Regions from separate parts of the Homo sapiens genome. Here region 2 is linked to region 1. The links come from fine-mapping of genetic effects on gene expression. A gene starts in region 1. The other region holds a variant in brackets. All regions are shown on one strand. Distances are between the middles of the regions. Region 1 holds the start of MROH8 (maestro heat like repeat family member 8). Region 2 overlaps RPN2 (ribophorin II).

What was found. PIP is the estimated chance that this variant, and not a neighbour inherited with it, causes the effect.
Region 2: its variant is the best candidate, but not a certain one, in a credible set for the expression of MROH8 in spleen (GTEx, PIP 0.59).

The regions. Positions count from the first base shown.
Region 1 is chr20:37,176,984-37,182,357 of GRCh38, reverse strand. MROH8 (maestro heat like repeat family member 8) reads left to right here and starts at 2,810. Exons shown (of 25, transcript NM_152503.8): 1 at 2,810-2,969; 2 at 2,971-3,135. The coding sequence starts at 2,878. RPN2 (ribophorin II) reads right to left here and starts at 3,028. Exons shown (of 17, transcript NM_002951.5): 1 at 2,989-3,028. The coding sequence starts at 3,001. RefSeq lists a silencer at 2,753-2,802 and enhancers at 2,353-2,910, 2,923-2,972, 3,323-3,402, 2,911-3,470.
Region 2 is chr20:37,241,430-37,246,803 of GRCh38, reverse strand. It overlaps RPN2 (ribophorin II), which reads right to left. Exons shown (of 17, transcript NM_002951.5): 17 at 5,185-5,374. Among named protein-coding and RNA genes, the nearest start is that of GHRH, 18 kb to the left of the region's middle. The variant C/T (reference allele first, on the strand shown) is at 2,377.

The sequences.
Region 1 (5,374 bases):
CTTTGGGAGGCCGAGGTGGGCGGATCACTTGAAGTCAGGAGTTCAAGACCAGCCTGGCCAACATGGTGAAACCCTGTCTCTACTAAAAAGACAAAAATTAGCCAGGTGTGATGGTGGGTGCCTGTAATCCAAACTACTTGGGAGGCTGAGGCAGGAGAATCACTTAAACCCAGGAGGCGGAAGTTGCAGTGAGCCGAGATCGCACCACTGCACTCCAGCCTGGGTGACAGAGTGAGACTCCATCTCAAAAAAATAAAAATAAATAAATAAAATTAAATTAAAAAAAGAAAAAATCTATCACGTGGTGTATTCATCAAATGTATACTGAGCTACTATGTGCCACACACTACTTTAGGTGTTAAAAATACAGCAGGAAACAAAAGAAACAAAACTCCCACCCTCAAAGAGCTTCTATTCTAGTGACAAAAGACATCACATGAAATAACATTATTTATCACATTACAAAGTAAGTGCTATGGAAAAAAATAAAGTACAGAAGAGATATTTGGGAAGGGCTGCATTTTAAATACGGTAGTCTATGAAGGACTAAGAAATAAACATATTGAGTACAGATCTGAAGAAGAAGCAAGTCATAAAGATATCTGGTGGGAAACTATGCTAAGAAGAAAAACCCAATATGGCCAGGCGCAGTGGCTCACACCTCTAACCCCAGCACTTTGGGAGGCCAAGGCAGGGGGATCACCTGAGGTCGGGAGTTCAAGACAAACCTGGCCAACATGGTGAAACCCCATGTCTACTAAAAATACAAAACATGAGCCGCACATGGTGACTTGGCCTGTAATCCCAGCTACTAGGGAGGCTGAAGCACGAGAATCACTTGATCTGGGAAGCAGAGTGGGCAGTGAGCTGAGATCGTGCCACTGCACTCCAGCCTGGGGCTCTGTCTCAAAAAAAAAAAAAAAAAAGAAAAGAAAAACCAAATGCAAACATTCTGAATCAGGAGTATGTACACATACAGTGTTTTTTGAGATCAGCAAGGACAGTACAGCTTGAGTGGAATAAGCAAAGGGTAAGAAGTAGATGAGGTAACAGAGGTAGCAGAGGACAAATCCAGAGGGCCTTGTATACCACCGTAGTGGAAGCCACTGGAAAGTTCTTTTTTTTTTTTTTAGACAGAGTCTCGCTCTGTTGCCAGGCTGGAGTGCAGTGGCGCGATCTCGGCTCACTGCAGCCTCCGCCTCCCGGGTTCAAGCGATTCTCCTGCCTCAGCCTCCCAAGTAGCTAGGACTACAGGCACGTGCCACCATGCCCAGCTAATTTTTGTCTTTTTAGTAGAGACGGGGTTTCACCATGTTGGCCAGGATGGTCTTGATCTCTTGACCTCGTGATCCGCCCGCCTCAGCCTCCCAAAGTGCTGGGATTACAGGCGTGAGCTACCGCACCCGGCTGGAGACCACTGGAAAGTTCTAAGCAGAGGAGTGATTTGACTTACACTCTAATGGTATTACTGTGTTGAGAATAAACAATACTGTGTGGAGAACAGACCATGCAGGTGCAAGGACAGAGCAGGGGACACCAGTTGGGAGACTACCGCCATAATCCAAGCCAGAAGATGATGGTGGCCCAAACCAGGGCAACAGCAGTGAACATGATGAGAAGTGATGAGAGTTAGTCTGGCTAGAATTCAAAGTCAAAGCCTATCAGAAACTGCTAATGGACAGAAAGACCTAAGAGAGAGCGGAGTCAAGATACTAATGCTGAATCCCCAATGCCTTGTGCACAGGCGGGTACCCAATATATGAAGATCTAGTGAATGGCTGCGACTAGCATTTTCCCACCTAGACCGTAAATTCCCCTAAAACAGCACCTGTGTCAGAATCCTAATCTTCTCACTCCATGTTAACGAGAGCAGTAACTTTTCTGACTAAAAGTTGAGCACTTAATATGTTAGGTATGCCCACGCTATGCTGTGCTTTGCACACACCAAATCATTAAATCCTCACAACATCTAAGCAAGGTGGCTATTTTCTGCATTTCACAGACCAGGAAAGTAAGGCTCAGAAGTAGTTACCTGCCCTAGGACACATCACTGAAAATCAAACTTCAGGCAATTTGAATCCAAAGTCTGCTTTTAACCACTTTACTATCCTGAACTTCTCAAATAATGAAACGGTGAGCCACTGACTCATTCATGTGTCACCCTGGGCAAGTAAGTTCCCTTCCGTGGGATTCCAACTTCTCATCTGTCAAATGGTAGTAACAAGAGTACATGCTTCCAAAGTTACGATGAGGCTACATGAAATTCCACCCTGCACAGCGTCTACTCAGTAACTTCCAATGCAGTTAACTTAGTTCTTACCTAGGGCCATGCACTGTTCTAAACTAAGCACGAAGATTATTTCACTTAATAAAGCAACTCAACGAGGCAGATAACGTGACTAATTTGACTAACTTATTTTACAGATGAGAAACTGAGGTGTAGAGGGGTTAAGTAACCTGCTTTGGGTTACACAATGAATACGTGGCCGACTGCAAGTTTGCACCTAGAGTGTCACTTGAGAACTTATGCTCCAGGCTCCCAGAGAGAAGTGAGGGTTTTCTTTGCCCCTTTCACTGAATGGGAAACTACAGCACAAAGAAGGACAATCTGCCCAAAACCTCACACGGAGTAAGGGGCAGCGCCGGGACCAGAACCTTAGGCCGCCTGGCCCAGAAGCCCGCGCGAGTGAAATGAATGAGGCCAGACCTAGGCTAAGCGCGTCCGCGGTCCCCACGGCTGAGCCTCGGGGCGACCCGTAGCTCCGCGCTGCACCCCTCCCCCAGGCACCAACCCCGCCAGGTCGCGGGCACTCCCACCAGCTCGCAGCCCTCCTTCGGACCCTCGATCCGAGAGCGCCCCAGCCAGAGCTTGTGCCCATGCCCCTGTCCCGCAGGGGAAGGGGATCCCGCCTGGCCGGCTCTCGAGCGGCGACTAGTAACCTCCCGCGGGCGACAGCCCTCTCCCCAAAGCCACGCGCAACTCCTCACCCGGCGGCGCCATTCCTCCGAGCAGGTCCCGCCGGAGTCCGAGCCGCGGGCTGACTTCCGCTCGGGAAAGTGGCTCCAAGAGCCCGCCACAGGGGACGCCAGGGACTCGCGGCAGGCTCTGCGGGCCAGGATGAGTTCTAAGCACAGGTCAGTGTCCGCGGCCCCGCTGAGCTTCGACGCTTCCAGCAGCCGCGGCCGGGATCCCAGTCCTCCCGCTCACAGGGCCTTGCAGTTCCCGAGGACAGACCCGCCTCTCCCCCGCGCCCAGGCCCACTTGGAACCGACCGTCTCGCAACGCTCCTATTCCGGGAGCTACCGGGACGCGGTTGGGCCAGGCCTCGGGGTGGGCCCGAGACGGGGCCGCTTCTGATTGGCCTGTCTGCTGTCACTCACTCGTCTTTCTGCTGCCCGGCCCATTTTAAAGGAACAGGAAGGGTCTCGTCGGGAGGGGATAGCTTAGAAGGGATTTTTTTTTCCTCTTTAGAAAATTGTGGCAGTTTCTGGCCGGGCGCAGTGGCTCACGCCTGTAATCCCAGAACTTTGGGAGGCCGAGGCGGGCGGATTACCTGAGGTGAGGAGTTCGAGATCAGCCTGGGCAACACGGTGAAACCCCGTCTCTACTAAAAATACAAAATTAGCCGGGCGTGGTCACACATGCCTGTAATCCCAGCTACTCGGGAGCCTGAGGCAGGAGAATCGCTTGGACCTGGGAGGCGGAGGATGCGGTGAGCCAAGATCGCGCCATTGCACTCCAGCCTGGGCAACGAGTAAATCTCCGTCTCACCAAAAAAAAAAGAAAAAGAAAATTATGTCAGTTTTTTCCAAAGATTATCAGTGGGGTTGTTAATAACTGACCTACGAGTGACGTTTTATCTGATTTGCAGAGCAATGCAGTGACTCATAGAGAACATATTAGGCCAGTTTTACAGGCTCAACATGGAGGTGGCTCATCCAGGAACACCGCTCTAATAACTAGCGCCAACTACTGAATGTTTACAGTATAACCCGACACTGTGCCGAACGCTCTACAAGCATTATTTCTTTTCTTTCCTTTTTTATTGATACGGGATCTTGCTCTGTCGCCCAGGCTGGAGTGCAGTGGTGCGATCACAGCTTACTGCAGCCTCGACATCCTGGGCTCAAGCAATCTTCCCTCCCGCCTCAGCCTCCGGAGTAGCTGGGACTGCTGCCTTGCGACACCACGCCCAGCTAATCTTTAAAATTATTTTTGGTAGATACCGCGTCTCGCTTTGTTGCCCAGGCTGGTCTGGAACTCGGGCTCAAAGGATCCTTCGGCCTTAGCCTCCCAAAGTGCTGAGATTACAGGCTAATCCCATTTTAAAGAGAAGGAAACAGATTTGAACCTAGGCAGCTGACTCCAGAATCTGTGCTTTTAACTACAGTTTTATGAACATATAAAGTATGCACAATATAACTCTTATTAACGTTATTATTGTCCCAAATGTTATCCCGCATGGGAGAGAGTCAGTTCTTTCTGTGTCTGTTATGATAGCCACTAGCCTTATGTGGATATTTAAATTTGAATTTAAATGGATTAAAATTAAGTAAAATTTAAAATTCAGTCTCTCATTTGTACTAGCCACATTTCAAGTGCTCAGTAGCCACAGATAACTAGTGGATATCAGATTGGACCACTCAAAATTATAGGACATCTTCATTATTGCAGAAAGTTCCATTGGGCAGTGCTGATGTAGAATATATAAAGAATTCTCCCAGCTCAAGAATAAGACAACCAACCAGTGGTGTGCTGGAGCTGTCTCATACTATCTTGAGAGTCCATTGTTAAATTTGCAGTAATTTTGCAAATTGGTTAAATACAGCCATTTAGAAAATTATATCAATTTAGGATGAAATAAAGTATATTGAAAACAAAACTCATTATTTTCTAATTATTTCACTACATTTTACGTTTTGTGTGCTTTTGTGGTTGCTTATATCTGTTGTAACTGTGTGGTGGAAATATATGACAGTATGCCATTGAACATCTCTTCCCAAGGTAGTATTGGTAGCTTGATTTTGGCCATGATGGGAGTATTTACACCACAGACTTAGCATATGCAGCCAGGAATGGTGGCTCAGTCTGTAATCCCAGAGCTTTTGGGAGGCTGAGGTAGGAGGATCACTTGAGTCCAGGAATTCGAGACCCACCTGGGCAACACAGCAAGACCTGCCTCTACAAAAAAAAAATTTTGATTAGCCAGGTGTGGTGGCTCGCATCTGTGGTCCTAGTGACTAGCTGTGGACCACAGATGGGAGCCACCACACCTGACTAATGAAAAAGAAAAAGACCAACAATAGCAAATGTTGGCAAGGATGTGGAGCAACAGGATCTCTCATATCCTGCTGATGGAAATGTAAAGTGGTA
Region 2 (5,374 bases), 64 kb before region 1:
GGGTGGTGGTTATACCAGTGTTGTCACATATAAAAAATCATTGGGTTGTTCACTTAGGATCTGTGCATTTTGCTGTACGTAAATTAAACCTAAAAAAAACCTGACAACTGTGAAAAGTCTAGATGATGGGATGTCTGTTTTGATTTAAAAAGTGCAAAAAGAGGGGCCAGGTGCAGTGGCTCAAGTCTGTAATCCCAGCACTTTGGGAGGCCGAGGCGGGCGGATCATTTGAGGTCAGGAGTTTGAGAGAAGCCTGGGTAACATGGTGAAACCCCACCTCTACTAAAAATACAAACATTGGCTGGGTGTGGTGGCATGGGCCTGTAATCCCAGCTACTAGGGAGGCTGAGGCAAGAGAATCAACGTGAACCCAGGAGGTGGAGGTTGCAGTGAGCCAAGATGACGCCACTGTACTCCAGCCTGGGTGACCGAGCAAGACTCTGTCTCAAAAAAAAAAAAAAAAAAGTGCGAAAAGAATCACAGCATCTTAACATTGATGGAGTGAACAATCCCACCTCTCCATTTTGTAGCCTAAGACAGTGTCGTCAGGGAAGGAATGACCCAAGCTCGAAGGGCCTGGCAGCCAGGTCTCTGGTCTCCCAGCACCAGAACTATATAACCAACTCAGTTCCTTCCAGGGTAAAGACCACCTGCTCTCCCTGGGCGCCTGAGAAAAAAAACGTGAAGCCTGGGAAACCGTCTGCAGGGGGCCACTGAGGCGGCTCCACGGAGGAGACAATCAGAACAATGGGAGACAAAAGCCCCCTCGGAGGAAAAGGCTGGCCTTAGAGGGCAGGTGGCCCACTTCAACCAAGAGAGGCAGGCACAAAGGAAGGGGCTGTGAATGGGAGGCGCGCCCGGCCTGCCCCAAGACCCCCTCCTTCCTCCCAGACCCACCTGCTCATCTCTTTCCTTGGCCTATCCTGACAAAAGCAAAAGCCGAGGGCTCTTTCAACTTCCAATTAGTTTTTCAAATAAAATAACGACTGCTGGGACCTGCTGCTACTTGTGGTTTTGGAGGTGAATGCAATTATAGGGGAAAAACCACCATAGCAACAACTCCAGTGCTCCATACCATTAACCACGGCACGAATGGCGTCGGAGAGACTCCACTTGCCCCGCAGAGGAGCTGGGAGCTTCCCACTCCGGGGAGGGTCCTACTTAAGACGGAGTGCTATTTTTCTCCCTAAAGAAATGCTCTAATCAACGGGGGACTTGTCGCTTTTAATGATAATCTCTTCTGTTTGTATTAACTTAGAGTTCACAAAGAGGCTTCCCATCCATTACTTCATTTGTTCTCTACAACAGGCCCCTGAGGAAGGCAGGGCAGGGCACATTGGCCCAGCTGGATCCAACTAGAGGTCAGATTCAACTAGAGTCGCTCCAGGTTGGCAGGACGGGACTGATGGGGCGGGGAGGGAAGGCAACACTCTCTCGAAAAGGTTGCTTTAAGACTCCAGGCCCCTCAGGAAATGCTGGGGAGGAAATGAGGGAGCTGGGGTGTCGAGTAACTTGAACTAACAGGTGAATGTAGACCTGGTACAAACTGTTGACTGGGCTCCTGTTAACACCACCTGGGAAATAATAATGATGACAATATCTGCGCTATTGGGAGCAAACACTGACTCAATGCTAAGTGTCAGGCACTGTGGTATGTGTTGTGGCTGTGGCCTCCTCTAATCCCTATAAAACCCTCAGAGGTATGATCCCCATTTTTACTGATGGGAAACCAAGGCCCAGAGAGGTAAAGGTACAAAAGGACACACAGCTAATGGGGGAACTCGAAGCAGCTCTGACTCTAAAGCTGGCATGTCTTGTACTCCTCAGAGAAGGCCAGGCCCAGGCGCTACTGCAGCGAATCATTTGAGTGATGAATCCAGTGGATTTCATGAATTATAAGAGAGAGGCCTGCTGTCAGCTCTGGACTCCCAGACTGTCTTGGCTATAGCAACCAGGTTATTCCCCTGCAGCACTGCTCCAGCACTGAGAGCCGAGTCCCTTTAAGAGGCTTTGAGGCCAGGTGCAGTGGCTCCTGCCTGTAATCCTAGAACCTTGGGAGGTCGGGGAGATTGCTTGTGCTCAGGAGTATGAGACCAGCCTGGGCAACATTGCAAAATCCCATCTCTACCAAAAATACAAAAATTAGCCCAGTGTGGTGGCACGCGCCTGTAGTCCCAGCTACTCCAGAGGCTGAGGTGGGGGGATCACCTGAGCCTGGGAGGTTGAGGCTGCAGTGAGTCGTGATTGCACCACTGCATTCTGGCCTGAGCAACAGAGCAAGACCCTGTCTCAAATAAAATAAAAAATAAAAAATAAAAAAAAAGGCTTTGCCCAGTGGGCAGGGTCAGACAGACAGCATCTGCCTCTGCTATACCC[C/T]AAAATAAAACTCAGGCTGGCCAGGCGTGATGGTGCATGCTTGTAGTCCCAGCTACTCAGGAGGCTGAGGCAAGAGGATCCCTTGAGTTCAAGGTCAGCCTGGGCAACATAGCAAGACCCCATCTCTTTGTTTGTTTTGTTTTAAAAAAGGTCCTAAGAGAAAAATCAGTCCCCTTTACCACAGCCCCTAAAAGCCAAGTTTGTTCTGGCTTCTATCCCAGCGAGGATGCCGTTCCTGCCAGTGACACCCTGGCTGCTTGGCCTGCTTCCAGTCAGAATGTGCCGTGCTCTTGCCCCAGAGCCTCCATGCTGGCTGATTCTCTGGCCGGAGTGCTCTTCCTCAGCTTGGCATAGGCGCCTTCTCATTCTTCAGGTCTCAGCTGAGACCTCCCAAGCCATCAAGGTAAGAACTGCTTCCTCTGAGGCCCTTCTCACATGTGTGATCACTGCTTCCTTTCTCCCTCAGCTGGGTGCCCGTGGGCTGTACCTGGACCAAGGGAAGGGACTGGATCTGTCTTGCTCCCTGTGGTAGCTCTGGACACAGAACACAGCCTGGCACATGGCAATGTTTACTGGGCTCTGTTCTCCAGCTCCCATCTGAGTCTGCAGGCCAGCCCCAAACCAGCCCGGGAACCCCTTACTTAGCTGTGCCAGCCGTTTCTCCAAAAAGCTGTTTCCCGACTTCCTTCCTTCCAGCCACTGGCTGTCCTTTGTTCCCAGTGACCAGGACACCCAGCAGCCTTTGTACTTCCACCCTCAGGCCCTACTACCCCTGCTCCACACCACTGTCCACCAGCCCCGCACCCAGTCTGTCTTCCAGGCCCGCACAGGTCTGGTGATAGGTGGCAAGTGTCCCTGCTCTCATCCCACACGCTGCTGGGGCTCTCTTTCCTCTCCAGTCTGAGCGGCTGAGGTCCCAGCACACCTAAGTAGGAACACTAGGAGCCGCCCAAGAGCAACAGGAAACCACCATCACCCCTTCCCCTCCGAGTGGGATAAGAAACTAAAAAGTGGAGGATCCCAAAGGTATATGCCTATGGGAGCCAGGCAGGTATCAGAGAAGCACAGTCGCCAGGTGGACTGGCGCAAGTGTCCTGTATGTGGACACCTGTGCGGGGAGGGGCTGACAAGCTGGAGCTTGCAGGCTCCATCCAAAGGGACGAGCTGCTATTCAGTGTCAGCTGACTGCTGCCGTTCAGGAATCAGGCCCGCCGTGGACAGCTCTAGTTTTCTCTTTCAGGAGAATCCAGAATCCAAAACCAAGATTTTTATATAAAATCTGTCTTCAAATGTTGGCAACTTACTCAATTTTTAAAAAAACACTACAGATCACAAGTTTGCAACCTCTGGGAAGGAGAAGCCTCCTTCCCATCTTAGAGGCATCCCTGTAACTGCCCACATCATCCTCTTACCTATAGGATCCCATTCAGAACGGCATAGAGTTCTAGAATCTTCTTTCCCTTTTTCCCAATCAAAATCCCAATTTCTTCACTGTAGTAAGGTCCAGCTAGTTGGGAAGCAATCTGATTAAAATAAAACAACTTCCAGACCCCCAATTCAATAAATACTATGAGGATTACCATATTTCACAAGTTAACTAAACTTATTATGTTTCAATTAATATTAGGTTGGTGCAAAAGTAATTGCAGTTTTTGCCATTCTAGAACTAGAGGCAATGGGCCAAGGCACATAACCGTAGGTCAATCAGGAAAGATGCCAAGTGCTAAGCTGCGTCAGCATTCAACTCCTTTAATCCTATGAGGTAGGTAGTTATCATCTCTCTTTTACAGAAACACAAAAGGAGGTTTACGGAGGTTAAACTACTTGCCCAAGGTCCCTCACCCTAGTAAGTGGCAACACTAGGTTTGCCTGGAACCAAAGTCTACGCAGTCAACCATGCTATGCAGTATTACTTCTCTCTGTGCTATTATATAACCTCATGTAATGGGCACAACTTCAGAGGGGGCATTCTTGAGATGTGGCCTTCTAGACTAAAGTCACTCAAGTGGTCAGTGCTATGGTTTGAATTTGTGTCCCTTGAAAATTCATGTTGCAACAAATCTCCATGCAAGTCTTTTTTTTTTTTTTTTTTTTTGGAGATGGAGTCTGGCTCTGTGGCCCAGGCTGGAGTGCAATGGCTCACCGCAACCTCCGCCTCCCAAGTTCAAGCTGTTCTCCTGCCTCAGCCTCCCAAGTAGCTGGGATTACAGGCATGCACCACCATGCCCACCCCTTGGCTAATTTTGGTTTTTTAGTAGAGACAGGGTTTCACCATGTTGGCCAGGCTGGTCTCAAAACTCCTGACTTCAAGTGATCCCCCTGCCTCGGCCTTCCAAAGTGCTGGGATTACGGACGTGAGCCTCCATGCCTGGCCCCAAGACAAGAGCCTTGAGCAGAGGTCCTAGCTGCAGTCCACCTGCACATTCCTGTTGTTTAGCTGTGTTCTTGCCAAGTCACACTCAGTATCTAACCTAACACAGAAAGATTCTCAAAAATGGGACTCAGCTCACAGAAAATGTTAAAGGGGATAAAAACCTATCCCCTTGGACCCCTAGAGGTCCAAATGGGGCCTTCAGATACCAACAGGGCTCCTATGCAGACAGCTGGTGCTCACTGCTGGAGAAGAAAAAAGGAAGCTGGCCTTTCCAGGCAGTTCTCAGTTCTGTTAGGAGCAAGGGGCAAGAAGGACCAAGAAAGGCCTGGAGAAATATGCTGGCATCAACAGCATTTCCAACTAAGTCCTCATGTCATATACCCAAGGACCCCACCACCCAAAAGTATGAGAATAAGCTCTCAATCAGGCCTTTGTTCCTATTGTTACCCTCTTTATTCCAAAACAATTACACATTTCAACTTTTCAAAAGCAACATCTGGGTAAGTTAGGAATATTCACAGCTTCTTACACAGTGTCAGAGAAAGAGACTATCTGAGCTCACCAGGTATCTGCTGTGTGTTGGGGAAACTGAAAAACAAGCAAAAGTATAACTACAATCTGGAC